3 linked regions of the Homo sapiens genome follow. The protein of the gene in region 2 interacts with the protein of the main gene of each other region in a biochemical or structural test. Each region holds a gene or a part of one and is shown on either strand. Other genes may lie near its edges. The genes, in order: KIF23, PRC1 and CENPE.

Region 1 (10,366 bases), about 22 Mb from region 2:
AGTCCAACCATTTTTAAATACAATTTCAGACTTAGAAAAATGTTGCAAAATAGTGCAAAGAATTCCCAGGTACTTTTCACCTTTTCTCCTTTCCTCCCTTTTCCAACAGTGAGAAAGCTGACTGCCATTAGCCACAATATGTTTTATTTTATTTTATTTATTTTATTTTTTTTTGAGACGAAGTCTCACTCTGTTGCCCGGGCTGGAGAGCAGTGGCACGATGTTGGCTCACTGCAACCTCTGCCTCCCATGTTCAAGCGATTCTGCCTCAGCCTCCTGAGTAGCTGGGATTACAGGCGCGTGGCACAATGCCTGGCTAATTTTTGCATTTTTAGTAGAGACAGGGTTTCATCATGTTGGCCAGGCTGGTCTCGAATTCCCGACCTCAAGTGATAGACCTGCCTCAGCTTCCCAACATGCTGGGATTACAGGCATGAGCCACCTCACCCAGCCCATGATACATTTTATCTGCTCAATCCTAGAATGTACAGAATGTTGTTTCAGAATTACCAACTAATGTCTGTGCCTACTAATTAGAATTCAAAACGTTTCAAGTTTTTTTTTTTTGTCTTGACCCTGAGGGCAAGCTTGATTCTAAATAGTCACAGTTACCTGGGTTATTTCCCCCTTTCTGTGTATGTTATTTATTTGAAATATAGTTCAAGTCATTTGTTTCTTTTTGTGTAAATTTTACAGTCCCCCAACTCCCCAACACACACACACACACACACACACACACACACACACACATCCCCAGGTTGATTTTATTAATTTGTGTTTTCTGTATGTAAACATTAACATCTAACCATTCATGTTACAAATGGCCTGGCGAGAGAGATTCATGGCCTGGGAACCTGAGACAATGTTTCTAAGGCCACTGAGTGACCAGCAGGGCCTGGGAGGGAACAGTGTGCGGAGCATGTCCAAGATCCCAAGGCAGTGCTGTCTCCATTTTACCACCTCCCCTCAAACACTCGGGGCTTCAGCAGTTTCTGGTCATTGGTGTTTACTGGGTTCCCACAGCTGGACTTGCTTATCTGGGTGTTTGGATTAATATATGATTTCGAATTTGTGTAGTGTCAGCCCCTCTTCAATGATTTGGATAAGACTCGCCTGGTCCAATTTAACAGTTTCTAATAAAGTTAAACTTACCGTAAGACCCACAATCCCACCCAAGAGAAATAAAAACACACCTACATAAAGACTTTTACACAAATAATTATACCAGTTTCATAATCTCCAGAAAGTAGAAACAACCTAAATGTCCAACTGGTGAATGAATAAATTGTCCTGCATTCATACAGTGGAATAGACTCAGCAACAAAAAGGGAACAAATTACTGGTACATGCAACACATTGATGAATATCAAAGCATTATGCTGAGTGAAAGAAAAGACATTCTGGAAAAGGCAAAAGTATAGGGAAGAAAATCAGAAAAGTCGTTGCCAAGGCCTGGGAGTAGGGGCAGCCCAGAGAATTTTCCACTGTGATGGAAATATACGTTTGATTGTGGTTACAGCACACTATATATTTGTCAAATACACATAACGATACAACTAAAAAGGGTCCATTTTACTGTATGTAAATTATACCTAAAATACTTGACTTTAGAAAGAAAAAAGCCCCTCAGTTCTCTTCTCCCCACCCTCCTACGCGCACTCCTGATCTGGATCTCTAATTCTATGGTAAAATGCAAATCTTTTAATGGCTATAGGTAGCCCTTTGCTATTTTTGAATAGAAAAATGATGTAATTATTTGGTAGTTTTAAGGAAATTAATAAGCCAGAGAACTTTAATACAGAAGTGAGGGAGGAAGAAGAAACTGGCCTGAAGAGAAGCTGGAGGTGGTGCGATGTAACTGGGTCCTCAACTGGAGCGTTCTTTGAAGGGATGATTCATTCATCCCTTCAAGCCATGTATGGGGCACCTGCACTGCTAGGCACTGGGCATGCAACGATGCCATCTAGTGAGGCTGTGGGGATAAGCCAGTAGAGGAGACAGGAATGAACAGTGACTGCCAATTGGAATGTGAGTGCTGAAACAAGTCAACAGGTGCAGTGAGTGGGAAAGGGCAGTTTTGGGGGCGTGGGGGCTGTACCACGGGGCCCAGTATCCACAGCAGGGTAGCTGGCAGATCTGCAGAGAACTGAAGGCAAGGCATTGTCAGAGGAAAGGAGGGAGGAGAGCGTGACAGCACAGAGAATGGCGTGTGAGCCCAGCGTGTTCAGGGCACTGCAGTTCAACATGACTAGAGGGGACAGGGGGCAGTGATGGGTGATGAGCCCCAGAGGAAGCGTCTCAGGGCCCTGTGGTGGGTCTCCAACAATGGGGAACCACTGCAGAGTTTCATATAGGTATGTGACATAATCAGATCCATGATTTAGAGATGAGCAAAATGGAAACTGAATTGGAAAGTGGCAGCAGAGAGGCCTGTTAGGAGACTGCTGTCTTTATCAGACAAGAGAAGATGGTGGCTGAGGAGACAGAGAAAAGTGGAGCAGTTTGGAGGTTTGGCTACTTAGTAGGTAGAACTGTTAAGATTTAGTGATTGAATATTGAGACAGAAGAAGAGAGAAAAGCTAACAATGTTGCTTTAGACTCTGGCTTGGTGGATGCCATCCACTGAGAGGGAGCAAGTTTGGGAGAAGAGATTAGAATGTGTTAGATGTGAGATGCTTGTGGGATATCGAAGTGGAGAATCCAGAAGACAGCTGGATATATGGCTCTGGAGCTCAGAAGAGCAAACATGAATGGGATGTGAAGCCATATGAGTGCTTGAGAGTGCCTAGGGAAAAGGCACACCTAGTGACCAGCTCTAAACCCTGAGCCCCAACATTTAAGGGAGAAAAAAAGAACTCACAAAGGAGACTGAGAAAGAAGGGCTAGACAGCTAGGAGAAAAAATAAAGGCATGGGAAGAAAGGAATGGGCAACATTTTTTAGTGTTGTTAAGAAGCCAAGTAAGACAAAAGTCAAATAGATTTAGCATCAAGGAAGTGGTAATTTTGGTGACAAGAGTTCCAATGGAGTCTGAGGTAGAAGCTAAACTGAAGAGCAACTAGGATATAAGTAGTCAGCAACCAAGCCCAATTCCTAAATGATAAAAATTCCAAACTCTAGGCCAGGTGCGGTGGCTCACACTTGTAATCCTAGCACTTTGGGAGGCTGAGGCAGGTGGATCACTTGAGGTCAGAAGTTCAAGACCAGCCTGGCTGAGGCAGGAGAATTGCTTGAACCCCGGAGGCGGAAGCTGCAGTGAGCCGAGATTGCGCCACTGCACTCCAGCCTGCGTGACAGACTCCGTCTCAAAAAACAAAACAAAACAAACAAACCAACAAAATACCAAACTCTAGCTTGACAACAAAGTCCTAATCATTCAAAGACTTCAACATAGGAAGCAAAGCAATAAAAGCACTAGGAAACAAAAAATGAGAAATAAAATAAAAAACTCAGAATGGATGTATTTTTCCAGTATGACACAAAACAGAAGCCATAAAAGAAAAGACGGATTAATCTGTCTACCTGAAATTTTTTCCAAGCTGTCACAAAACATATACAAATAAAAATAACCAAAATGTGAAAAATAAAAGTATTTAAACTCGTATTTTGGATGAGGACCAATTTTTTTTTAATATAAGAACTTTCACAGATCATTAAGAAAAACGAACAACCAATAGAACAAAGAGGCAAAGAATATGAACACAGTTGATAGAGAAGGAATCAAAAGGGCTCTAAAATATATGAATAGACAACATTTATCTGAAAATAAATGAAAAATTTAACTACATGTTTTTTCTCACCAATTGATATGAGATATCAATAGATTGGTAGCTACTGAAAAGTTTGATAACACTTTGAGAATTGTGGAGAAATAGGCACTCTCATACAGGCTGGTGGGAGTGTACATTTGGACAGCTTTTATGGAGAATGATTTGCAATATCTGTGAAATGTTACACATATGTATACTCTTTGACTCAGCAATTCTGTTTCTAGAAATGTTTCCTACATATTTACCTGCATTGTATAAATTTCCACATTCATTCACTATAGCTGTATCTGTAATAGGAAAAGTTGGAACCATCCTAATGTGCAATGTAGGGGTGGAAAAGGTGTGATACTTTTCTTTACCCATCTTAAGGGTCACAGCTGACACTACCATAACAAAAAACAGGTTAGCAAGATAAATGGATAACTTATTGAATCACAGTTTTATGGGATGTAAGTGCCTTCAGAAATGAAGACCCAAAGACCCAGGGAAAGCTGTCCATTTTTATGCTTAGATGAGATGAAGAATGGACAGCTGTGTAGAAATGTGATTGTACAAAAGGAGTATGATCTAATAGTAACAGACTGAAGGAGGAATCCAGCAAGTCCTGTCTGTTCAGATTCTTCTTGGCCTCTCTGTGCAGCTTTCCTTCTTCCTGAGTGTAGGGCAAGACCCTTTTGGAACGAGGGTCTTATGACAAGGTACATCAAAGAATGTCTTTATGGCCAGCTCTTACACAAAAAGGTGGGGGAAGGCTAGATTAATATTTCTAGGTTTTTCTAGAATAATGTTTCTGGCTTGCTTGGGAGAAAAGGGGTTCTAGTTTCCATGACCCGCCTTGGGGAACAGAAATTCTGGTTTCTATTATTTGCTTTAGGAGACACAGAGGGGTGGGAGACAAGAGGGCAGGAGAAAGTCAGAGACAGACTTTGCTTTTAAGGCTTCTCTGAGGCACTTTCAGTCTTCTTTAGTTCAAAGCACTCAGTGTGCCAAAGAGCCATACTCTGGGGTGTCGTTTCCTGAGCACCAACAATATTGGCCAAGGACATTGTGACTATCCTTACCAGTGCTGTGGTCCTTTAGGAAGTTGAGAAGGGGCTAGAGTTCCATGAGAGCCCAGGTGTAGATGTGTATTTGGTAGTCATCGGCTTAGGGTCAAAGACAGAAGTGATATAGAATCAGTTCATCTAAGGCAAGAGTAGGTTCAAAAGGTTGCCCCTTAAGGGTAAGGACCAAATTTTATTCATCTCCGTAAGGCCAGGATCAAACACAATCAAGATTTGATAAAACAGGCCGGGCGCAGTGGCTCACGCCTGTAATCCCAGCACTTTGGGAGGCCAAGGTAGGCAGATCACCTTAAGTCAGGAGTTCTAGACCACCCTGGCCAATATGGTGAAACCTCATCTCTACTAAAAATACAAAAATTAGCTGGGCGTGGTGGTGCGCGCCTGTAATCCCAGCTACTCGGGAGGCTGAGGCAAGAGAATTGCTTGAACCTAGGAGGTGGAGGTTGCAGTGAGCTGAAGACTGCAGTCCAGGCTGGGCGACAGAGCAACTCCACCTCAAAAAATAAAAAAGGAAAAAAAAAAGATTTGATAAAATAATGTACATATAGGACAGAGCTGGAGGGAAACCCAGGAAAGGTGAATCAGAGAGAGAAAAGACGCCAAGATAATGTGGTGACTTGGGAGCCAGAGAGACGGAGCCTGAGACTTGGAGCAGGGCACAGCACAGGAATACAACACTTTTCACCAGAACGACATTCCGACCTCTGAATCAACCCTGGAAAGGCCCTTCCATTGAACTTCTTGTGATGGAGGAAAAGAAACCCTCAGTTTCGTCATCGCAAGGCGGAAGAGTTTAAATACCATACCTCAAGATCTCCCTCCAGCCCTGACACGCGACTCCGCGGCCCTTTCAGCGTCGGTCGCCTAGGAGACAAGCGCCACTTCCGGCAGCGAAGTCACTTCCGCGGAGGTCCTGCCTCTCCCTGCGGACGGGCGCTGATTGGCCCGTTTGAAATGCGCCAGGCGGGAGCTCACCTGGGCTCTTAGCGTCGCCGCCGGCTTCGCAGAGCACCGCGCCTTAGCCGCGAAGTTCTAGTTCTTGCTGCCGGTCCTAACGTCCCGCAGTCTTCGCCAGCCAGCCGTCCCGCATGCGCGTTTGGGCGGCGTGGAGCCTGCTGCCATGAAGTCAGCGTGAGTACGAGGCCGCCGAGCAGGGAGAGAGGGCGGACGGGGGCCGAGGCCTCGGGGCTGGGGGCAGGCGTCTCCACTCAGGCCGCGGCCGTACGCGGGCAGCGCGGACAGCATCCCGCCCGGTGCTGCTGCGGCCGCGACCCCAAAGTGGGAACCTCCACGTGTGGCCGCTCCGCGGGAGCCTGGGCGCGGAGACCCCTGCCGCGTCGCCCCCCGCCGCCCCGCCTGGGCCTCCAAGGGGCCAGGAAGGGTCGGCCCGGAGCCGGGGTTGTTTTACGCCGCACCCGGTTCCCGGGGGCGGGGCAGTCCTCCTCGGGGTCCCGGGACAGCCTTTCCCTTCTCCCTCGCTGGCTGCCGCCGCCTCCAGAGTGCAGTTGGCCAACTTAGTGCGGGTCGGAGGTGGTCTCGTGTGTGGAGCAGAGCGAGTGTGCTGGGCATTGGTTAGATGGGCTCCGTTTCTGGAGAGCCCTGGCACCGGTGATCGCCGCTAGCTTTTTTTTCAGCCGAGCACCCTGTCCTTGAGGCCGAGCCCATCCGCTTACACAGGCCAGTTACTTCTGCTGTATTTTGTGGCCGCAGAGAACCTCCGCCCACATTCCTAAGCTAATATTTTCGGCGCAGCATCATTCCTGGGTAAAGAAATATTTGTCGTGCAAAGGAGAGGATTGGCTTTATTACCATTTAGGGAGTCGTTTGCAAAAGACAACTTGTTTATTAAGAGGCCGAAGTCAAAATCTTTAGATGAAAAAAATTATATATAAGAAATATACGTTGAGTTTAACTTAAGCCCACCACAAAGTATTTTGCACTGAATAACACGAATTTGCTTGTGTTTCATCTGAGAATATGTTTGGAAAAATATTTTTAAACTACAGTCGAAGCCAATAATCTTACTTAATTTTAATGTGTTAAATGTATATCTAGCCTATAGATAAATGTGAAGGGAAAAAGATGAGATGCTAGAGAAATGGTGAAATCAATCAAAATAACTTTTTGATTGCCCCTACTTAAGAAACCAAGAAATTGGCAGTTTGGGACCAGATTTTGTTTGGAGACAAAGAGTAATGTTTTGAGCATTCAATGACTGGTTGTTCCTTGAAAGTACAGGCGTAACCCTTGACGAAAGAATGGTTTCCTCCATGTGCATTTTTATAGTGTATTGAAGTTAATCGCTTGTCAGTCTGTAAAGTGTGGGCAGTTATAATTTGTAGTGCCTCTGTTAAATTGTTGCTCAAGAAAATATGCAAGCCATTTTAAGTATAGAACTAATCAGAGAATAAGTAGGTAGCTTTGGTACCAAAAATGTATTCTAAAGCAAATTTTAATTACTTTTGGATTACGCATGCCACAAACACTCTGCTACTATGATTATTAATGTTATTTGGGATGCAGTGTTTTGCAACTGCTAAGGGATAATTTACAGATAACCTAGAAAGATTGTATAAGTTTTAGGTGAGGCTTTTGTATTCGTGTTGAACTGAAAAAAAAGTTATTATTATTTTTTAATCTATGACCAGGAGAGCTAAGACACCCCGGAAACCTACCGTGAAAAAAGGGTCCCAAACGAACCTTAAAGACCCAGTTGGGGTAAGGTATCCCTGTAAATTTATGTGTGGTGTTTAAGAAACTTATCTCTTCAGTCCTTTCTGTCTTATGTGTATGCTTGGAAGGGAAAGAAGAAGACATGTGGAAGTATAATCAAAGAACATTTAGTTAAATGGATGTACTACATTGTGTAAAACTAGTGCTAGCTGTGAAATTTTCTCTATAAGATTAATTAAATTAGTCCAGTAAAATGAAGTCTTTGGTTGTCAACTGCATACCTTCTGTAATTATAATTTGGAGAGTTAGATAATTAAAAATCTCCAACTGGGTTCATATTCATCCCAGAGAATATGAACTGAGTTCATGCCATACAGTAACTGATGGCATGAGGAGAGTTCCAAACTTCTTGGGACCAAGTTTAATTCAGTTAAATTATGAAGAAAAAATGAAGCAGGCAAAAAGAATAAGAATTTTAAAACAAAACAACAAATGGCAAACAAAAAGGGTTCTTTGCTCTGAGGTATTTTAAATCTATCCCTCGTTGCCACTGGAGTGGGTCCCTGGCTCTGAGTTAAGGGAACCGGGTGCTTTGCACACAGCTGAATGAGTTTTCCTCAAGCCCCCTCCCCTGCTTTCAAAAATGTCTCTGTAGGCTGGGTGCGGTGGCTCACATCTGTAATCCCAGCACTTTGGGAGGCTGAGGCGGGTGGATCACCTGAGGTCAGGAGTTCGAGACCAGCCTGGCCAACATGGCGAAACCCTGTCTCTACTAAAATTACAAAAATTAGCTGGGTGTGGTGGTGGGTGCCTGTAATCCCAGCTACTCGGGAGGCTGAGGCAGGAGAATTGCTTGAACCCAGGAGGTTGCAGTGAGCTGAGATCATGCCATTGCACTCCAGCCTGGGTGACAAGAGAGAAACTCTGTCTCTAAATAAATAAATAAATAAAAATGTCTTTGTATATTAAATGTTGGGTTAAGCTGACAAGTTTTTAAATTGACATCCATTTCCAAGAAATTCTAACAGTTTTAAAAATCTCGTGTGACATGTTGTTGACTTTTAGAGATATTAGTAGTAGTATAACTATTATTTGTGTACAATATAATAGTGAATACACTGCAATTTGATTTTTATTAAAATTTATTTTAATTTTGTGTGTATTTAAAGTATTCTCATATCTAATACATACTTGTATTTGTCAATCTCAAGTAGCAGATTTTAATTTTCTTAGCCCTTGGAGATACAGAGCTCTTAAATTGAGAGACTGAATGTTTGTTGAATGAATGAATGAATGAGAAGCTTAAGTGAAAAATCAGGCAAAAGGTCGAACTTTCTTCTTAAAGCACCTTCCTATTTCTTCAGGTATACTGTAGGGTGCGCCCACTGGGCTTTCCTGATCAAGAGTGTTGCATAGAAGTGATCAATAATACAACTGTTCAGCTTCATACTCCTGAGGGCTACAGACTCAACCGAAATGGAGACTATAAGGAGGTAATTCTGATTTGGACCAAGTTGTTTTTACTCAATATGTTGTTTCCTGAATGACTTCTAGATTTTTAGATGTAACAAAGTTCATTTGTGAGCCCACATTTTCAAAAGACTTATTTACTTCATTATAACCACTGTATCTAAAGTGTTTTTGACTTCTGGGATGCACAGACATACCTTTGGTATGCTGGGGTTAGAGGATTGCTTTTAGCAGATAATTTCTTACACTGAGTATTATTGTTTCTTAGAGCATGTGTTAGGGATGATTTAATGTGGAATGATACATGATTGTGCTAGGCAGTTTTATATATACAACTTGATGTGTGGAAATGAAAATAACATTTAATAATAGACATTGTTTACTTGCATCAACCTCCTATGCAGTGTTTTTATTTTTAGTAAAGTTTTGAGTCAGCTCAAAAATATTGTTTAGCAAATGTGCTAAGCTAATAGTTGGAGGGTGGAAGGAGATTAAAAAAAAGAGCATGACATACTCCTTGCCTTTAGAAAGTTTATAACTTAAGATATATGGTAAACAAATAATTCTCATATAAATAAGACAGAAAGTTAGATGTGCTAAAGATGAGGGGACCGTGGGAATGCAGTAGGATTAATTCAGGCTACCATTTCTACTTCTAGCTGTCACTCACTCTTTTGTGCCTACTATTCCTGTGAAATTGCTCTTCAGAAGACTACCAGTGGCCTCTTTGCTGCTAAATTTGATGTATACCTCTTCATCCTCATTTTAACCTGTTTGTCAGCAGCACTCTCCTGTCTCCCCCTCCAGCTCTCCTTGTATCTCCAGCTGAAACCTTTTCTCTGGCTCTCAACATTCAACCACTTACTTGATATCTCTGCTTGGATGTCACATGTGCATCTCAAATTTTACATGCCCAAAAAGGAGTTCTTGATTTTTCTTATTCCCTCTCTAAATACTTCCTCCCTTGTTTTCTTCTCAAGGAATGGCACTATCGTGTGTCCAGTTGCTCAAGCCAGAAACCTGGTACCTACCTTTTACTTGCCTCTCCTTATAACTAGTTCATTAGTAGCTCCTATCAGTTATATTCCAACATGTGTCTTGAAACTGTCCTTTCATTTCCATCTCCACTGCCACCACCCTAGTCTGAGCCCCATTATTAATCACTGAGACCAGAGCTACTGTAATGAAGGAGTAGCTTTTTTATTTTTAATGCGTCACAGCTGAGACTTTTGTACAACTTGTGCTAGATGGAACTGCCCGTGTGAGTTAGACAATAGGGAACTAGTTCATAATCTCTTCATAGAGATGAGCCTATTGAATACATGCTGAAATACTGATAATTGAGCAGTGCCAGATGGAGGCTCATGCCTGCAGTCTCAGCACTTTGGGA
Region 2 (11,083 bases):
TGGTGAAACCCCATCTCTACGAAAAATACAAAAATTAGCCAGGCATGGTGGCCGGTGCCTGTAATGCTAACTACTCGGGAGGCTGAGGCAGGAGAATTGCTTGAACCCGGGAGGTGGAGGTTGCAGTGAGCTGAGATTGCACCATTGCACTCCAGCCTGGGCAACAATAGCAAAACTCCATCTCAAGAGAAAAAAAAAAAACACGCAAAGTGTCCTGCACAGGAATATTTTTCTCCTGGCCTCAGAATACAACTTGCCATAGCCTTAACTCTGGGCTGCCACAGCAGGGAGCCCAGTTATACCAGTCATAGAAAGCAGTGGTGCCCAAGAGCATGGCACTCACGTCTCTGTCTATAAACTGGTGCTGTGATCCCGTGGGGACTGTGGAACTGGAGAGGCTCTATGGGTTGCCGTTGGGGCCTAAGATCTGTGCTGTCTCTTCTGCTGCTGCATTTGACTCCTTAGGCTACAGGTTCATTTTCCTGACGACAGCAGTCACAAACAGCGCTCGCCTTATGGAGGCCATGAGTGAGGTGAAAGCCTGATGTTTTTCCCGGCCAGTGTTGACATCTTCCCTGAACACATTCCTCAGTGAGATGCAGGCATCTGGCACCCAGCTGCTATAACCAAGTGTCCACCAACTACCTGCTAAGAGCCGGGAGCATGGAACGTGTTGGGATTTAGAGAACATTATCTGAGAAAAGAGTTCACTTCCTGCTCCCAGGATATTTCTCTTTTCTGTTTATGAAGTACAACCCATGCTGCTAAGATGCGAGCAGGAAGAGGCATCCTTTGCTAAATCCTGTTTGAATGTCATTGTAAATAAAGCCTCTGCTCTCAGATGTAATACGTTGGTCGTTCTGGACACGCACTTCCATCTTTATTAGTGAAAGCCCATTGGAGCTTGCTACAGGGGCTTCCTGTGCTTCTTGGCCTGGACTTTGTAGTGGCTCCAGGCCTGGTCTGGTTCTTCCCTGTAAAAATCACTCTACCACTCTGTACCTGAGTTTCCTCTACCATAAAATGAGGGAGATGGCTGAGGTGACCAGCAAGCACGTTTCCAGTTCTAAAATGTTGTGATTCATTACATTTTTGAGAAAATGACTTTGTTGTTTTAATTTAAGGAGGCACTTCAATTTTAAGCGTTTGTTTCTTATTGCAGAATGAAAGATTGTGTGCCATTAGAGCCATTTCAGGCATCAGCAAACAGTGCTCCTATAAATGTGCCAGCACCCTCCTCATTACTGATGCTAGTAGCCTTTCTCTCTCTCTTTACCTTTTAAAAATGATGAAATATAGGCCAGGTGCTGTGGCTCATGCCTGTAATCACTGCACTTTTGGAGGCCGAGGCAAGAGGAACGCTTGAACCCCGGAGTTTGAGACCAGCCTGGATAACATGGGAAGACCCCGTCTCTACAAAAAATAAAAAAATTAGCCGAGGGTGGTGGCACACACCTGTATTCCTAGCTACTGGGGAGGCTGAGGTGGGAGGATCCTTTGAGCCCAGGAGGTCGAGGCTGCAGTAAGCTGTGACCTTGTCTCAAAAAAAAAAAAAAAAAGAAGGAATTACAACCACCTATATTAGTGGCCTCTTTTCAGGCCTCTTCCAACTTGATCTCACTGATGACTATGCTTTCCTTGAAATTGTCTTATTCAGCTTCCATAATACCCTTTCTTTGTCCTCCCACAGTCTCTTAGGTTGTTCTTTGATTACTCCTCTCTGCTCATCCCATTTGCTGACATCTCCCCTCTCTCTGTCCTTTGTTGTCATCCACTTCCAGATCTCAAGCCTTCATCTCACTCCTTAGCGCCACACAAGTATTTCCTACCTGGTCATTCCACAGGCACTTCAAACTCAGCATGTACAAAATAAACTCATGAGTGGAAGCTCCTGTCCCTACTTGAATCCTTTAATCTGCTCTTCTTCCTGTATTCCCAAACTTTGTTCAAATGAGCAAAAAATTGTATTCTTGACCTCAGATTTTTTCTTTCTATGCCCCACCTTCAGCTGGTTCCCTTGTGCTATTGGTTCTTATTTCTAAATGTCTCTAGTTCATCTTCTCCTCACCATCCCTACGACAGAGGTCTTTATTGTCTCTTGCCTGGGTTTTTGCAAGAGTGTGCCTCCCAGCTGCTCATTCTTCCATCTGTTCCCCATTCCACAGTGCTGCCACTTACTAAAAGGAAGAAAGAAAATCAAAACCTGAGTTACTGGATCATCAAAAGTATTCTTCCTATAGAATAATGATCATTCTGGGCCCCGCACGGTGGCTCACACCTGTAATCCTAGCACTTTGGGAGGCCGAGGCAGGCAAATCACTTGAGGTCAGGAGTTTGAGACCAGCTTGGCCAGCATGGTGAAACTCTGTCTCTACTAAAATATAAAAATTAGCCAGCTGTGGAGGCGCGCACCTGTAGTCCCAGCTACTCATGAGGCTGAGGTGGGAGAATCGCTTGAACCCAGGAGGCAGAGGCTGCAGTGAACCGAGATCATGCCACTGGACTCCAGCCTGGGCAACAGAGCAAGACTCTGTCTCAAAAAATAAATAAATAAATAAGAATAATGATAATTCTGTATAAGAATATATTCCAAGGAAAAGGCATTCCTCAAGCATCTAGCTAGAATTTTGAGTGTTATGTCAAGCTAGTGTGCAAGACCAAAGACACTGCCAACAGGGCTGTTAATTCACAGAAAGAATAGGTGGCATCAGAAAAAGATTAAACAGTGGCAAAACATTGCACTTCCATCCAGTAGAAATATATGACCCTGTAATAGGATTTTTTTTTTTTTTTTTTTTTTTTTTTGAGAAAGGGTCTTGCTTTGTCGTCTAGGCTGGAGTGCAGTGGCGTGACCATGCCTCACTGCAGCCTTGACCTCCTGGGCTCAAGTGATCCTCCCACCTCAGCCTCCCAAGTAGCTGGAACTACAGGCTCATACCACCACACCTGGCTAATTTTTGTATTTTTTATAGAGACAGGGTTTTGCCACAGTGCCCAGGCTAAGGTCATATATTATAAACGCGTATTACACAGTGTTTTACATGCTGCGTTTATGCTCTGAATGGATATCTTTGCATCAGTTCTATGACTTTGTTAGCCTCAGCACCTCAGTGTAAAGGACAAGAGAGAAAAAATTGCCTTTTCTTTGGATACTTCATAATGCTGGTGCTAAGAACAAGTATGAAGATCACAAATTTGTGAAGCTTTCTGAAAAGCTCTCCTGTTAATTTAATCAACAAAGAATGCAAGTAAATTTTAAAAGTAGTGCTACCATCTACTCTATTAGTGGTGTCAATGTTAATCACAGAGTGCAAGGAAATTGAAAAAGTGGTGCCTGTCGCCCACTGTGTTGGTGCTGTGAATGTTTGGCATGCTGCTGACAAGTTAAAAAGAACATGGAAGCCGGGCGCGTTGGCTCACGCCTGTAATCCCAACACTTTGGGAGGCCGAGGCAGGCGGATCACCTGAGGTCAGGAGTTCAAGACCAGCCTGGCCAACATGGCAAAACCCCGTCTCTATTAAAAATACAAAAAAAAAAAGTATCCAGGCATGGTGGTGCGTGCCTGTAGTCCCAGCTACTCGGGAAGCTGAGGCACAAGAATTGCTTGAACCCAGGTAGCGGAGGTTGCAGTGAGCTGAGATTGGGCCACTGCACTACAGCCTGGGTGACAGAGCGAGACTCCGTCTCAATTAAAAAAAGTAAAAAGAACATTGAAAGCACTAATGAAGTTTTTCTGAAAATAAGAAAAATATGGTTCTGAAGGTGAAGCAAACAAGCATCCTTTACCTTTAGGGAAAAGGCATATGAAGAGGATTCACTTAAGTTACAGTTGGCCAATAAACACGAAAAATGTGCAATTTCAATTATAATCAAGTGCCAAACAAGGAAATGCCAGTATTATTATTTTACCTACAAAATGAGCAAAGATGTTTAGAAGTACAATAGAATTCAGCCCTGCTGAGGGTAACAAAAGGAGGGTACTTTTCCGGTGAGGCTTTGTGCAGAAGGCAAATTAATAAAGGGAGCATTCAGTAATTACACCTCTAGGAATCAGCCGTACGAAAATGCAGGATGCATTTATAAATACATACATACACAAAGATTTATGTATGAAGATATTCAGCCCAGCCTTATCTTTTAAATTATCATCTAAATATCAATAGCAGAATGGGCGAGATATCTACACACCAGGATTCATGCCACCATGCCACCATGAATCACTGGGAAAAAACGGTGATATATAAGCATTTAGGGATGTAACATGTTCATCGAGGAAAGGAGGCTACAAAAGTAATGTCTATTTTGAGTTTTAAATTTTTCATGTAACGATTTAGAAACTCATCTAATTTGATAACGTGACTTAGGCAAATCATTCAAATCTTTTTGCGTTTCCTCTGCAATGGCGATTGTGGAGGTTAAATGGGATAACTGGCGTTGAAACGTTCCAGGCCCATGAGCAGGACTCAATGTTCCTTCCCTTCCCCTTTAGTGTATGGCTTCTTACATCTGGGGAAGAGTCCCACCAAAGATCGATTCCAAGCTTCGCTTCTTGGATGAGCGAGGGAAACTAGGCGCTAACTTACCTATTCACCCCCGCGCCCGTTCCCGGCAGCCGGGACTCAGGGAAGCCAGGTAGCCGCGGTGCTCTCAACTCCCTCCCCGCCCGCGCACTTCGAATCCAAACTGCGCGGGGCGAGGCGGGGCGGCGCTCCGATGAGGTAGCTGGCTTGGGAGAGGAGTCCCTTGAGGCTGCCGCCAAGCCAGGGAAGCGGGAGGCGCAGGCCACGCCCGGCCACTCACAGACAGTGACGTCATCCCCCGCCGCCACTCCGGCGCTTCCCAGGCCCTGCTCGCGAGTCCCCACCCCGATTGCGCACCCGCGACTTCAGCCCGAGGGGCGGGGATTTTCTTGGAGCGACGGGACGCGACGCCAATCGCGACGAGGCTTCGCCCCGTGGCGCGGTTTGAAATTTTGCGGGGCTCAACGGCTCGCGGAGCGGCTACGCGGAGTGACATCGCCGGTGTTTGCGGGTGGTTGTTGCTCTCGGGGCCGTGTGGAGTAGGTCTGGACCTGGACTCACGGCTGCTTGGAGCGTCCGCCATGAGGAGAAGGTGCGGGTTGCGGGGAAATCGAGGGGACGCGGGAGGGAGCGACGCTCGTTTCGGCTGCGGGGCCTGTTCAGGGGTGCGGGACCCGTGCGGGGTCCCGGGCCTAGATCGTCACGGCAGTCGGCGCCGAGGGAGGCCGGGGGCGCTGAGGGGCAGGGTCTGGAGGCGGCGAGCCAGTGCGAGGGCCGCGGCGGTGAGACCTGACGCGCTGTCCGCCGGCGGCCGCAGGTGCCCGCAGGCTCAGACGCCCGGGTGGGAGCCGAGCGCCGGTGCCCGGACGCGGCAGGGTAGTCGAGGCCCGGGGCCCGGGGCGGCCTCCACCCAGGCGGTCAGCGCTGGCGCTCGGACCCCACCCTCCCCGCCCGCAGCGTCTCAGGTGCCGCTGCTTGGCGCAGATGACTCGTTGTAAACCTTCTGTGGTCGTGGCTTTTCTTTAAAGCTGTTAAGTTTATTTATCGTTGTTTTTCTTTGTTTTATTCTTTTTTTTTATTTTTGTGGAAACGCGGTCTATGTTGGCCAGGCTGGTCTCGAACTCCTGGCTTCAAGTAATCCTGCCACCTCGGCCTCCCAAAGTGTTGGGATTACAGGCGTGAGCCACCGTGCCCGGCCCGTTGTTTTTCTTTATATCTGGCCAGCGGTGTTAACGTTTTGTTTGAATTGGAAAGATAGCTTTGTTTCTTTGCAAGTTAAGAAACGGATTATGGAATTCTTTTCCGGTCGTTTTAATAACTTCCTAGGCGGTGTTGGGGAGGGACTGTCCGACTTGAAATCGGGACCAGACGGTGACACTGCCACTTACCAACCTTGTGACTTCCAAATATTAACTTTATTTTCTAAAAGTTGTGGATGCAGTTTTCTGATGATACAGCGTTAAATAATGTGTAGTTTTTGGTGGAACTGATTGTTCTAAGGCTTTGTAAGATTCTTCATTTCATGATCACTAATTCTGATCAGTCTTTTTAAAATGCTTGCCCTCAGAATAATGAGAATTGAGTGCCAACATGGTAAAACCTTGTCTTAACTAAAAATACAAAAATTATCTGGCCCTGGTGGCGCGCCTGTACCCCCAGCTTTTCAGGAGGCTGAGGCAGGAGAATCGCTTCAGCCTAGGAGGCAGAGGTTGCATGAGCCGACATCTCGACACTGCACTCCAGCCTAGGCGACAGAGTGAGACTACGTCTCAAAAAAAAAAAAAAAAGTCCATTAACAGTTTATGAATTATGTAGGCATCTCCTCTATCAAGGGATTGAATGAAGCAGGAGAAAACTTACCCTTTAATGTTGGTTCCAGGCTAATGGATATAATTAACTTTTTTTTTTTTTTTTTTTTTTTTTTTTTTGAGACGGGGTCTCACTCTGTCGCCCAGGCTGGAGTGTAGTGGCGAGATTGCTCACTGCAGCTTTGACCTCTGAGGCTCAAACGAAACTCTGGCCAGAATTAATTATGGTTATCGATCCCCGAAACAGGTTGAACTGGAGATCAACAAAGCTCCTTCTCTGGAATGCTAAGAAAAAATAGGGCAGTGGATCAGTGAAGGCTGCCTGAAGGTAGAAAATAATTTAAGGACCACTGTGAGATACCTTCCAGTCCAGTGATTTATGTTCAAGACTGGAAAAACTGACTCATTTTACAACCTTTTTGTCCTTGAGTGGTAGTCTTTGTATGCACTCTTGATTTTTTTCAGTGAATCTAAAAAAAAAACTCAGACTTGCTGCTTTTAGGGGATTATCTGAAACAATTTAGCCAGGGAGTATTTAAGTGTATCATGATAATTGTTCATAATGATTGCTCTGAAGCATCTTAAGATCATACAACTTTTTTGAAATGTCACGTTATTCATTCAAAAAGACTTCTTGGGCCTGGCACAGTGGCTCACACCTGTAATCCCAGCACTTTGGGAGGCCAAGGTGGGAGGATGACTTGAGCCCAGGAGTTCAAGACCAGCCTGGGCAACATAGCAAGACCCTGTCTCTATTTAAAAAATAATAATTTATACTAAAAAAGAAAAGAAAAATACTTCTTGAATGTTTGTTATATACAAGGAACCATTGCAAGTGTTGGGGATATAGCAGTGAGCAAAAGTGACATCCCTGCCCTCACAGAGTTTATATTCTAATAGCAAAAGAGGAGTGTAATAAATAAGTTAGTCTTAAATGGTGGTAAGTGCTATGTAGAGAAATCAAGAGGTTAAGAAGTACTGAAGGTGTAGGAAGGGGGGTTGTGGTTTTAAAGAGATGGGTCAGGAAAGGCCTCCCTGAGAAGGTGATCTCTGAGCAAAGACCTAAGAAGGAAAAGGGTGAAGCCATGCAGCATGGGGGAAAAGAGATCTAGGTAGAGGAATCAGCAAATCCAAGTGCCCTAAGGGGAGATAGCGCCTGGTATGTTCCAGAAAGAGCAAGGAGGTCGCTGTGACAGGAATAGAATGAGCACTGAGGTCAAAAGAAATGGCTTTCAGATGGAATGGGGCTCCATAGGTCTTTGGAAAGTCAGAGGCTTTTCCTTAGAGTGAGATGGCAAGTCGTTGGAGGGTTCTGAGTAGAAGATTAGGACTTGGGGCTCCTGTGTTGACAATGGACTTAAGGAGGCCAGCTTCGAAGCCGGGAGACCAGTTAAGAGGCCCCTGCCATACAGCAAGAAGTTGGTGGTGGTGACCTGGACCAGGGTGGGGGTGGTAGTGGTAGCAGCAGAGGTCAGGAGGAGTGAGATTCTGCCTGTCTTGTGTAGATAATGCTAATGGCGGGCATATAAGAAAGAAGTGTCAAGGATGATACAAGATTTAAGTTTAAAAAAAAAATTAAGTTCAGTACAATTTGAATGTTAGGAAGAGTGAGAAATGTTAGTTTTTAATTTGAAAATGATCCTCTTACAGGAAGTGTCTCTAACTAGAATAATAATAATGGGTGTTTGGTAATTCCAAACACCCATTTCCAACAGGCCAAATAAAATACGTTATATATTAGTAAAATTTTTATTTCTTTTTTTTTTTGGAGACAGTCTTGCTCTGTTGCCCAGGCTGGAGTGCAATGGCATGATCTCAGCTCACTGCAACCTCCGCCTCCTGGGTTCACCGGGTTCAAGTGATTCTCCTGCCTCAGCCTCCTGAGTATCTGGGATTACAGGCACCCACTACCACGCCCAGCTAATTTTTGTATTTCTAGTAGAGATGGGGTTTCACCATGTTGGCCAGGCTGGTCTCGAGCTCCTGATCTCAGGTGATCCGCCCGCCTTGGCCTCCCAAAGTGCTGGGATTGCACACGAGCCACCGCGCCCGGCCATAGTAAAAATCTGTAAGTTTTTCAATTAAGTCACAAATCAAAAACATTTCAGATTATGGGCCGGGCACAGTGGCTCACGCCTGTAATCCCAGCACTTTGGGAGGCCGAGGCGGTCGGATCACGAGGTCAGGAGTTTGAGACCAGCCTGACCAACATGGTGAAACCCCGTCTCTACTAAAAATACAAAAATTAGCCGGGCGTGGTGCCGTGTGCCTGTAGTCCCAGCTACTCAGGAGGCTGAGGCAGGAGAATCGCTTGATCCCAGAAGGCAGAGGTTGCAGTGAGCTGAGATCACACCATTGCACTCCGGCCTGGGTGCCAGACTGAGACTCTGTCTCAAAAAAAGAAAAAAAAAAGAAACCAAAAATGTTTTAGATTATGTGCCAAGATGTTTTTAATAACAGCTTTGAGGTATAATCCACATACCATACAATGTACTTAAATTGTATATTATAATTCAGTGATTTTTAGAATATTCAGAGTTGTGCAATCATCACTGCAATCAATTTTAGAACATTTTTATCACCCCTTTAAAATCCCATTAGCAGTCAATCCCCTTTCACCCCATGGTCCAAATTCTCCCCAGCCGCAACTACAAATCTACTTTTCGGCTAGGCAAGGTGGCGCACACCTATAATTCCAGCACTTTGGGAGCCCAAGGTGGGAGGACTACTTGAGCCCAGGAGTTCAAGAACAGCTTGGGCAACATAGAGAGACTCTACCTCTTAAAAAAAAAAAAAAAATTATTTATTTATTTATTTATTTATTTTATTTTTTATTTTATTTTATTTTATTTTTTGAGATGGAGTCTCACTCTGTCACCCAGGCTGGAGTGCAGTGACGTGATCTCAGGTCACTGCAACCTCCACCTCCCGGATTCAAGCAATTCTCCTGCCTCAGCCTCCCGAGTAGCTGAGATTACAGGTGCCCACCACCACACCCAGCTAATTTTTGTATTTTTAGTAGAGACGGGGTTTCACCATATTGGCCAGGCTGGTCTCAAACTCCTGACCTCGTGATCCGCCGGTCTTGGCACCCAAAGTGCTGGGATTACAGGAGTGATCCACCGCACCCGGCCTAAAAAAAAATTTTATTGTTTAAGTTAGCTGGGTGTGGTGGCTCACATCTGTAGTCCCAGCTACTCCGGAGGCTCAGGTGGGAGGATCACCTGAGCCTAGGAAGTTGGGGCTGCAGTGAGCCATGATCATGTTACTGCACTCCAGCCTAGGTGAAAGAGGGAGACCCTGTCTCAAAAAACCATACAAACCCCAAATCTACTTTTTACCTATTCTGGATATTTCATAAAAACGGAACCGTAGCTCTGGTCTTTTGTGACTTGCTTCTTTGACTTAACATAATGTTTTCAAGGTTTATTGCCAAATAATATTCCATTGTATGCCTATATACTACATTTTATTTACCCATTCATAAGTTGATGGCCATTTGTATTTTTTTTTTCACTTTTTGGCTATTATAAGTAATGCTGCTATAAACAGTTGTGTAGTTTTTGTATAAATGTGTTTTCATTTCTTTTGGGCAAATACCCAGTAATAAAATTGCTGAGTTGTATGAACTCTGTTAAACTGAGGGGCCGGGTGCAGTGGCTCATGTCTGTTATCCCAACACTTTGGGAGGCCGAGGTGGGAGGATTGCTTGGGCCCAGGAGTTCAAGACCAGCCTGAGCAACATGGCAAACCTTAAAAAAAAAAAAAAAAAAAAAAATTAGCCAAGCACGATGGCACGTCTATGGTCCCAGCTACTTGGGAGACTAAGGTAGGAGAATTGCTTGAGCCCAGGGCGTTGAGGCTGCGTTGAGCTATGATCACACCACTGCACTCCAGCCCAGGTGACAGTGAGGCCCTGTCTCAAAAAACAAAAAATCAATTGAGGAACTACCAGACTATTTTCCAAAGAGGCTGTACCGTCTTGCATGCCCACAAGCAGTGTCTGAGGGTTCTAGTTCCTCTAGATTCTCACCAATACTTTTTGCTATATATTTTTTTTTATTATACCATCCTGTTGGCTATGAAGTGGTTTTGATTTGCATTTCCCTAATGACTAATATTGAGCATCTTTTCATGTGCTTATTGGCCATTTTTATATCTTCTTTGGAGAAATGTCTATTCAGATTCTTTGCCCATTGTGCTAGATTTTTTTACTCAGAAAAACGATCACTTTACCTTCTAGATGTGTTACAGAGATAGGCAGCCCTGCTTGTAAACCTTCGTCAGGATCCAGAGTGCATAATACCTCTATTAGGTTAGGTAGGTTAGGAGCATAGGACCCTTTGGGAGGAATTCAGGGCCATTCATTTTATATCTATTGAACAACTACTGTGAGTTAGGGTGTGGTAAAATGAAGATGAATAAGATGTGGTGGTCCTTGCCCTTGAGTTTATGGTCTACTAGGGGGCTTGGGGGGAATGGTGAGTGACAAGTCCACAGCTCTCCAGAGGAGGTGGTGGCATATAGACGGAACTGAATGTACAAAGCGCGGTGGCATCAGAAAATGAGAGTTGCATGTGGTTTATTGAGGGGCATTGTTCAGGAAATGCCCGGGAAGTTCAGCTGGCCAGAGACCTGGGGAGTGTCAAGTGGGAGAGATTAGCAGACAGACTCGGAGAGAGGTTTTAGAAGGCCTTTCTACAGAAGGTGGTTGAACTATTTCCTGAGGGCAGTGGAGCCTTTGAAGGGGAGTA
Region 3 (10,396 bases), on a different chromosome or scaffold from region 2:
ATAATGCCACCAGTATAGGTTCTGTTTCCTATACAAGGTCCAAAAACTTACTATGGCAAATATAATTCTTTATAAGCTGGCACTTGCACTGCTCCAACTTTGTATTTATCCATCCCTTATTCTTACCTCTAGCTGAACTACTCACTATTCCCCAAACACCCCATGTACTTCTACACCTCCAAGCACCAGCTTTTTGCTATTTCCTTTATTCAGTTAGTTCTAATGTTCTATTCTGTCCTTATTCTTTATTCAAGAACCAGGCACAAAGATTATCTCCTCAGCATAGCTTTGCCTACTTTATCCTTCCTCCCCGCCAGATTTCAGATGAACTGCTCCTTGAACTGCATAACCAGAAATCTTTATAAACATGACTTATAGATACGACTTACATTTATAGCACTTATTTTGTTGGGCTAGTCATGCATGCTAGCTGTACTATGCTGTAGCAATACCATGACTTTACTGTGGCATCTTTAAGAGCTGGACCTCTCTTTCATTTCACAAATATTACTGAAAAGAAGTGGCTGCTTATTATGCTCCAGGAAGTACATCAGGTGCTAGGGCTACAAATAAATAAGGTCTCTGCTCTCATGGAGCTTACATTCTACATAGAGGAGGAGGCTGGTAAGAAGAGATAAAAAGACAAATAAGAAACATGTTGTGATAAGTGTAACAGAGATTATTTAAATAGAGCTGGAAAAGGGGCCAGTAGCTTTAGGTTCATAGGACTGGATAGCAGTGGAAGGCTTGTCATTAAGCTGCGATCTGAATGACCTGAGAAGAGGAAGCTGGTCCCAAAAAGATCAAGGGAAACAGTAGTCTAGACAAAAAGAATAGCCAAAACACTTAGTCACAAAGCAGAATGTGCTCAGTGTGTTCAAAAAAATAGAAAAGGCAGTGTGGCACAGTTGGTGAAGTGAAGACAGGAAAAGACAGAATAAGAGAAGTAGACAGGGGCCAGATTATGCAGGACTTTTTAAGTGAGATCTAAAACTCTGAAATGTTTATATTCAATGAGAAGCCATTGCAGGGCTTTATGCAAGGGAGTAATAGAACCCTGCCTTGCTAGATTGGGGAAGTTCTCCTGGATAATATCCTGCAGAGTGTTTTCCTACTTTGTTCCATTCTCCCTGTCACTTTCAGGCACACCAATCAGACGTAGATTTGGTCTTTTCACATAGTCCCATATTTCTTGGAGGTTTGTTCATTACGTTTTATCAAATTCAGGAAATACAGAGAATGCCACAAAGATACTCCTCAAGAAGAGCAACTCCAAGACACATAATTGTCAGATTCACCAAAGTTGAAATGAAGGAAAAAATGTTAAGGGCAGCCAGAGAGAAAGGTCAGGCTACCCACAAAGGGAAGCCCATCAGACTAACAGCTGATCTCTCAGCAGAAACTCTACAAGCCAGAAGAGAGTGGGGGCCAATATTCAACATTCTTAAAGAAAAGAATATTCAACCCAGAATTTCATATCCAGCCAAACTAAGCTTCATAAGTGAAGGAGAAATAAAATACTTTACAGACAAGCAAATGCTGAGAGATTTTGTCACCACCAGGCCTGCCTTACAAGAGCTCCTGAAGGAAGCACTAAACATGGAAAGGAACAACCGGTAATAGCCACTGCAAAAACATGCCAAATTGTAAAGACCATTGAGGCTAGGAAGAAACTGCATCAACTAACAAGCAAAATAATCAGCTAACATCATAATGACAGGATCAAATTCACACATAACAATATTAACTTTAAATGTAAATAGGCTAAATGCTCCAATGAAAAGACACAGACTGGCAAATTGGATAGTCAAGACCCATCAGTGTGCTGTATTCAGGAAACCCATCTCATGTGCAGAGACACACATAGGCTCAAAATAAAGGGATGGAGGAAGATCTACCAAGCAAATGGAAAACAAAAAAAGGCAGGGGTTGCAATCCTAGTCTCTGATAAAACAGACTTTAAACCAACAAAGATCAAAAGAGACAAAGAAGGCCATTACATAATGGTAAAGGGATCAATTCAACAAGAAGAGCTAACTATCCTAAATATATATGCACCCAATACAGGAGCACCCAGATTCATAAAGCAAGTCCTCAGAGACCTACAAAGAGACTTAGACTCCCACACAATAATAATGGGAGACTTTAACACCCCACTGTCAACGTTAGACAGATCAACGAGACAGAAAGTTAACAAAGATATCCAGGAATTGAACTCAGCTCTGCACCAAGCAGACCTAATAGACATCTATAGAACTCTCCACCCCAAATCAACAGAATATACATTCTTCTCAGCACATCACACTTATTCCAAAATTGACCACATAGTTGGAAGTAAAGCACTCCTCAGCAAATGTAAAAGAACAGAAATGATAACAAACTGTCTCTCAGACCACAGTGCAATCAAACTAGAACTCAGGATTAAGAAACTCACTCAAAACCGCTCAACTGCATGGAAACTGAACAACCTGCTCCTGAATGACTACTGGGTACATAACAAAATGAAGGCAGAAATAAAGATGTTCTTTGAAACCAATGAGAACAAAGACACAACATACCAGAATCTCTGGGACACATTTAAAGCAGTGTGTAGAGGGAAACTTATAGCACTAAACGCCCACAAGAGAAAGCAGGAAAGATCTAAAATTGACACCCTAACATCACAATTAAAAGAACTAGAAAAGCAAGATCAAACACATTCAAAAGCTAGCAGACGGCAAGCAATAACTAAGATCAGAGCAGAACTGAAGGAGACAGAGACACAAAAAACCCTTCAAAAAATCAATGAATCCAGGAGCTGGTTTTTTGAAAAGACCAACAAAATTGATAGACCGCTAGCAAGACTAATAAAGAAGAAAAGAGAGAAGAATCAAATAGACCCAATAAAAAATGATAAAGGGGATATCATCACCGATCCCACAGAAATACAAACTACCATCAGAGAATACTATAAACACCTCTATGCAAATAAACTAGAAAATCTAGAAGAAATGGATAAATTGCTGGACACATACACCCTCCCAAGACTAAATCAGGAAGAAGTGAATCTCTGAATAGACCAAAACAGGCTCTGAAATTGAGGCAATAATTAACAGCCTACCAACCAAAAGAAGCCCAGGACCAGATGGATTCACAGCCGAATTCTACCAGAGGTACTAGGAGGAGCTGGTACCATTCCTTCTGAAACTATTCTAATCAATACAAAACAAGGGAATCCTCCCTAACTCATTTTATGAGGCCAGCATCATCCTGAAACCAAAGCCTGGCAGAGACACAACAACAAAAGAGAATTTCAGACCAATACCCCTGATGAACATCGATACAAAAATCCTCAATAAAATACTGGCAAACAGAATCCAGCAGCACATCAAAAAGCTTATCCACCATGATCAAGTGGGCTTCATCTCTGGGATGCAAGGCTGGTTTAACATACAAAAATCAATAAACGTAATCCAGCCTATAAACAGAACCAAAGACAAAAACCACATGATTATCTCAATAGATGCAGAAAAGGCCTTTAACAAAATTCAACAACACTTCATGCTAAAAACTCTCAATAAGTTAGGTATTGATGGGACGTATCTCAAAATAATAACAGCTATCTATGACAAACCCACAGGCAATATCATACTGAATGGGCAAAAACTCGAAGCATTCCCTTTAAAAACTGGCACAAGACAAGGATGCCCTCTCTCACCACTCCTATTCAACATAGTGTTGGAAGTTCTGGCCAGAGCAATCAGGCAGGAGGAGGAAATAAAGGGTATTCAATTAGGAAAAGAGGAAGTCAAATTGTCCCTGTTTGCAGATGACATGATTGTGTATCTAGAAAACCCCATCGTCTCAGCCCAAAATCTCCTTAGGCTGATAAGCAACTTCAGCAAAGTCTCAGGATACAAAATCAATGTGCAAAAATCACAAGCATTCTTATACACCAATAACAGACAAACAGAGAGACAAATCATGAGTGAATTCCCATTCACAATTGCTTCAAAGAGAATAAAATACCTAGGAATCCAACTTATAAGGGATGTGAAGGACCTCTTCAAGGAGAACTACAAACCACTGCTCAAGGAAATAAAAGAGGATACAAACAAATGGAAGAACATTCCATGCTCATGGGTAGGAAGAATCAATATCGTGAAAATGGCCATACTGCCCAAGGTAATTTATAGATTCATTGCCATCCCCATCAGCTACCAATGACTTTTCTTCACAGAACTGGAAAAAACTACTTTAAGGTTCATATGGAACCAAAAAAGAGCCCGCATTGCCAAGTCAATCCTAAGCCAAAAGAGCAAAGCTGGAGGCATCATGCTACCTGACTTCAAACTATACTACAAGGCTACAGTAACCAAAACAGCATGGTACTAGTACCAAAACAGAGATATAGACCAATGGAAAGGAACAGAGCCCTCAGAAATAATGCCACATATCTACAACTATCTGATCTTTGACAAACCTGATAAAAACAAGAAATGGAGAAAGGATTGCCTATTTAATAAATGGTGCTGGGAAAACTGGCTAGCCATATGTAGAAAGCTGAAACCAGATCCCTTCCTTACACCTTATACAAAAATTAATTCAAGATGGATTAAAGACTTAAATGTGAGACCTAAAACCATAAAAACCCTAGAAGAAAACCTAGGCAATACCATTCAGGACATAGGCATGGGCAAGGACTTCATGTCTAAAACACCAAAAGCAATGACAACAAAAGCCAAAATTGACAAAATGGGATCTAAGTAAACTAAAGAGCTTCTGTACAGCAAAAGAAACTACCATCAGAGTGAACAGGCAACCTATAGAAAGGGAGAAAATTTTTGCAATCTACTCATCTGACAAAGGGCTAATATCCAGAATATATAAAGAACTCAAACAAATTTAGAAAAAAAAAAAACAAACAACCACATCGACAAGTGGGCGAAGGATATGAACAGACACTTCTCAAAAGAAGACATTTATGCAGCCAAAAGACACACGAAAAAATGCTCATCATCACTGGCCATCAGAGAAATGCAAATCAAAACCACAATGAGATACCATCTCACACCAGTTAGAATGGCAATCGTTAAAAAGTCAGGGAACAACAGGTGCTGGAGAGGATGTGGAGAAATAGGAACACTTTTACACTGTTGGTGGGACTGTAAACTACTTCAGCCATTGTGGAAGACAGTGTGGTGATTCCTCAGGGATCTAGAACTAGAAATACCATTTGACCCAGCCATCCCATTACTGGGTATATACCCAAAGGATTATAAAATCATGCTGCTATAAAGACACATGCACACGTATATTTATTGTAGCACTATTCACAATAGCAAAGACTTGGAACCAACCCAAATGTCCAACAATGGTAGACTGGATTAAGAAAATGTGGCACATATACACCATGAAATTCTATGCAGCCATAAAAAATGATGAGTTCATGTCCTTTGTAGGGACATGGATGAAGCTGGAAACCATCATTCTCAGCAAACTATCGCAAGGACAAAAAACCAAACACCGCATGTTCTCACTCATAGGTTGGAACTGAACAATGAGAACACGTGGACACAGGAAGGGGAACATCACACACCGGGGCCTGTTGTGGGGTGGGGGGAGGGGGGGATAGCATTAGGAGATATACCTAATGTAAATGACGAGTTAATGGGTGCAGTATACCAACATGGCACATGTATACATATGTAACAAACGTGCATGTTGTGCACATGTACCCTAAAACTTAAAGTATAATAAAAAAATAAATAAAAATAAAAAAACGTAAAACTGGAAAAAAAAAGAGAACCTTGCATAAAGCTCAGCAATGACTCTCACAATGGATCCACTATGACTACTGGGTGGAGGATGGATTGGGAAGGGGCAAGAGCAGCTGCAGGCAGCCCCATCAGGCAGCTGGGGCAGGAATCTCGGTGAGAGATAATACCAGCTTGGGTTAGGGAGGTGGCAGAGGAGACTGCTTGTAAGAGAAGCAGTGAAGGGGTGTCTTGTTTATTGTTTTTTTAATCTCAGAGCCCAACACCATGCTCAGAAGACAATAACAACTTAGTAAATATTGTGAGTGATTTGAAAGAAAGTCAAAGCTTTACGTTATTTCTCTCTGTGGAGATTTTTGAGACTAGGCAGGTAAATATGTATTACCAGTTAAGGAGGCTAATTTTTCTTGCACAGTGTCCACTACAGATGACACAGATACATAATAAAAGGGCAAAGTGGTAATGAAGGCAGCATGAGTGAAGGTTAAAGATGAGAACAAGCATTCATATTCAAAGATACTCAGAGGCCCAATCTATGAGGGAGGAGTTCATGTAGAGCAGAAGGAAATAAAGTTAGATTGGTTAAGAGTGGCCAAATCTTGCCCCAGGAAGTGATATACAAAAGCAATGGTTAGTATATTCGAAATCCTTATGATGACTTCAAGAAACAAAGACAAGGGTCATGGAGACAAGGTTCCAGGAGACTGACATAGTAATTCAAGAGAGATGAGAAAGTAAATGAGTGTAGCACCCATGGAAATGTTTAAAGGTAGGATCAGTAAGAAATGGGACAAGTGGACAAAGAGAAAGGCAGAAAAAGATGAGTCAAAATTGACTTAGGTTTCCAGCTTAGGCAGCTAGGATAATGCTGGTTTTACTGGAAATAAGGAATATTCACTATGGTAGGAAGAAAATAGTTTCGTTTTAGACATATTAAAGTTTGAGATAATGATGGGACACAATTATAACCATCTTTAGGAAGACATGAATTAGAATTCAGAGACTATAGGTAAAATATTTGGCAGTCATCAACATGGAAATGATGACAGAACATTTGAGAGCAAGAACTTGAGTAAGAAACGTCACAGAATACCTCCAAGTTTTTTTTTTTTTAATTATTTTTTTAGGAGGGTAGGGAAAAAGAAGCCAGGGTAGAAAACAGAGGAGTACAGCTAAGAGAAACTGGATATTATCATCCCACCAAGGCCAGGAGATAATCAGAAAAGAGCCACCTCTAAAGAGACAGAGATGACTCTTTAGAGACTTCTTTCCAAGAAGATTCTTAGAGTAAGTGGGTAGGCTGGAGGGTTGGAACAGATGGAACACAAATGACAGAGCATCACGTAACATGAGGAAAATCATCAAGTAGATCACTGAATATGCCAAGAGTATTAAAGCTAAATTATTAAAAGTTAAAATTATATGAAATATCACAGTCTTGGATGAGAAAACTAAAGAGGTTAGGGTTTGGTTTTTTATTGTTAAATTAAAACAAGATTAAAGTCTACTAAAATAAGTTATACAATTTTATAGCAAAATAGCTAAGGTGAAATTAGGATTGAATATTAAGTAATTAATAATCTAATTTTATAAAATCTGAAAATGAATAAACATATTATAGATTGCTTTTTTCCCTGAAGTTTTCTAATCAAATAATCTTAAATCATATCCCACATCAAGCTAAAGAATTTAGGCCCTAAAAATGCAGAATAAAGCAATATGGTAAAAGATAGAAAAGGAGCAAGAAAGAAACAGCAATAATTTAGTGTGGAAAGAAGGAAGTGAAGGTTTACTAATGTGGAATATAGGAATGTTTGCATAATGCATATATTCGCTTATTCAGCAAATCTATATTAGACATAAAATAGGTATAATGTGTTGGGGCTACCAGGATGAATGCAGTATCACTCCTCAATGGATTTACAGTCTAAAGTACTACGTTTACAATACAAAATATATTTTATTGTTGTACTTAAGTAAAACCTAAAGTAATGTGATTACTTTTTAACCATCCAACCTAGATTTTTGTTGATCACATAAGTCTAAATTACATTGGCTGAGATTTTACAAAAAGACCCTCAAATTCTAAGATGATCTAAAGTGTTAAATGTGTATAGAAAAAAATTCTACTGCATTAGTGGTTAGAAAAAACATCAATTCCTATAACCCTATAGCCCTGACATTTAAATTTTAGGAGATGGCAACCATGACATAACAGGAAGAAAGATCCTCTGAATTTTTCCTACGACATTTTAGCTAGGAATTTGATGATACTGACAAGACTAAGCAGACAATTTGTAGATTTCCTCCCACATTTAGTTTAGTTAACAGTTCTTATTAAACCAAACATCCAGCAACTAAATTAAATTTTGTTTTGGCCCATACAGTACATTATTATGGTTCATTAATACTCACCAAATGGGATACCTTAACAGATCCTTCACAATTAGAAGGTTCACCCTTCTCTCTGCTTTCCAAAATCTAGATAGAAAAGGCAAGCTGTAGAAAAATTAGTGCATTCTTACTTGGAAAGATCTAACAGATAGATAGAATTACCTACCATCCTAAAGATGGTATGAGAACGACTGCTTCTTTGATTCATTTTTGTTTCTCCATAATGCCTGCTCTCTGTAAAAATGAGTTATATTTCAGCTGCATATATAATAAAATCCATAGAAACACAATAATTTTTATTTTAACTTAAAAAAGTATGATTTGAGGTCCAAACGTGCTTGATTGAAAAGATAGTTTTTACAAGTGTTCTAAAGAAATACAGCATAAAGTCTTACTTTCTCCCTTTGTAATCCATTTCAAAGCCATTTCTGATGTATATACAACTTCTTCTGTGAGATCAGCAACATACACATTCCTCTGAAACAAGTTTAATTATGGAAAGATTAGAGAAATAGAAGTCACAAGTTTGCTTTTCAAAAGAAGGTGCAAACTATTATAGAATTCATTTGTGAAAGTTAAAAGTGGCAAATGGAACCATAATTCTGTAGGAATGTAACAAATAATTCTATGAATACCCACAATTTATTTCACATACCAAAGCACAACAAATTCTAACCTGATACTTCCAACTTGCTATTTTTACACTTAAACCAAAATATTAGAGCTGTCAGTATTTTAAAACTATTCATATTGTTTAAAAGATGAATATAAATACTTCAAAAAAACCCTCACATACTATAGAAATAGGAGACACTTTAAAAACTATAGAAATTAAAGGTAAACATTCAAGAACAATAATCTCAATAAGTCAGTCAATTTTAAAGCTCCCTTAAGTCTGCTACTCACATTGACATCTTCTCGAATAATTAAAGGTTTCATTTTTTGAGTGCCACAGAGTAAATCTGTAATGGTTTCATTGTATATTTCCATGTAAGATACACGTAAGAGAAATTCCCTATCAGGAAACTAGAAGAAAAAAAATTATATAAAAACACCAGGAAGCATCCAATTGTGAAAACCTAATGCTAAATGCTCATGTGCTTAAAGAGGTAAAATGTATGTAAAACAAACTAAGAAACCCCTTGGTTCTACTGTTGACAAAATAATGAACACAAAAATATAAAAGCATCGTTACAGAAATAATGAAAAGTGAAGTACCATAAAGCTGGGAGAACACCAACTCTAGGCTCAAACTCTAGGCTCAAAATAAAACCCTCTCAAAAGATGTTCTTATTTTAATAAAAATGCTAATTTGAAACCAACTAACTCGGTTGCCTATTCTGGCTTTCTGCTTCCCTTCTTTTTTTACCTACATCCACTTTCTACTGTTCCTTTATAATCACTGATAGTTAAATGGTTAGGTGGAGCTAACCATTCTGATAACATTTTCTTGTTCCTTAATGCCTACTTTTTGTTGAGAGTATTATTGTTGCAGAATTCAAGAGAAAGAATAAAAGAACTTTAAGCTTTATAAAGTAAGTTGTGGAGATAAAAGTGAATCTATGCTATGCCTTTCTTCTTTCCCCATGGATAATCAAACAATAACTGTAAATCTACTTCCTTTCATCTTTACAAGAGAAATACACTAAGACTGGTACCCAGTTTTTACTAGTTTTACCTGTACGTACTAGAAATCCAGTTAAGTTACTTACCTTCTTAATTTTTTGGAAAATGTCATGAATTGCCCTGGGTATAACTCCCAAATGATCTTCTGAACCCATCATGGTATATGTTTTTCCTGAAGCAGTCTGTCCATAGGCAAATATAGTACCTGCAAAAAACAAAACACACATACGCAAAGATTAAAAACAAACCTATAATGGGTAAAACTATGCATGCTTGTTGCACAGACGCCCAAGACTAAAATGTTTCTGCAGCATTGAGTGAATACAAACCATTGTAGCCTTGTATGGCAGAATCGATGATTGGTGCTGCTATTTCTTCATACACATTTTTGGTAGTTTCATTACCATGAAAGACACGATCTAAACAACAACAACAACAACAACAACACAGAAGTTAAATCAAATGAGTCCACTGTGTTTTCATTCCAAATTAGTAATTATTCCCAAAAGTAAAACTGTCAGAATGTAGGATGATCAACTATTTAAGACACAGTATTTTTTTCAACTTTTTGGTTCTCTGAAAATACCCTTCCCTAAGGTAAAATGAGTTCATTTTCACAC

What was found.
Region 1: the proteins of PRC1 (region 2) and KIF23 form a complex in vitro, tested with the Homo sapiens proteins (one study listed by BioGRID).
Region 3: the proteins of PRC1 (region 2) and CENPE form a complex in vitro, tested with the Homo sapiens proteins (one study listed by BioGRID).

Annotation. Positions count from the first base shown.
Region 1 is NC_000015.10:69,408,513-69,418,878, forward strand, and holds the start of KIF23 (kinesin-like protein KIF23), read left to right. Parts: upstream 1-5,836; 5' UTR 5,837-5,953; coding exon 5,954-5,964; exon of another isoform or gene 5,965-6,597; intron 6,598-7,481; coding exon 7,482-7,551; intron 7,552-8,870; coding exon 8,871-8,999; intron 9,000-10,366.
Region 2 is NC_000015.10:90,988,437-90,999,519, reverse strand, and holds the start of PRC1 (protein regulator of cytokinesis 1), read left to right. Parts: upstream 1-4,984; 5' UTR 4,985-5,102; coding exon 5,103-5,113; intron 5,114-10,895; exon of another isoform or gene 10,896-11,083. Other genes in the region: VPS33B (vacuolar protein sorting-associated protein 33B), read left to right, coding at 466-545. UniProt on the Homo sapiens protein: Key regulator of cytokinesis that cross-links antiparrallel microtubules at an average distance of 35 nM. Essential for controlling the spatiotemporal formation of the midzone and successful cytokinesis.
Region 3 is NC_000004.12:103,186,058-103,196,453, forward strand, and holds part of CENPE (centromere-associated protein E isoform 1 precursor), read right to left. Parts: intron 10,196-10,396; coding exon 10,106-10,195; intron 9,982-10,105; coding exon 9,863-9,981; intron 9,177-9,862; coding exon 9,057-9,176; intron 8,628-9,056; coding exon 8,546-8,627; intron 8,385-8,545; coding exon 8,317-8,384; intron 8,238-8,316; coding exon 8,172-8,237; intron 1-8,171. UniProt on the Homo sapiens protein: Microtubule plus-end-directed kinetochore motor which plays an important role in chromosome congression, microtubule-kinetochore conjugation and spindle assembly checkpoint activation.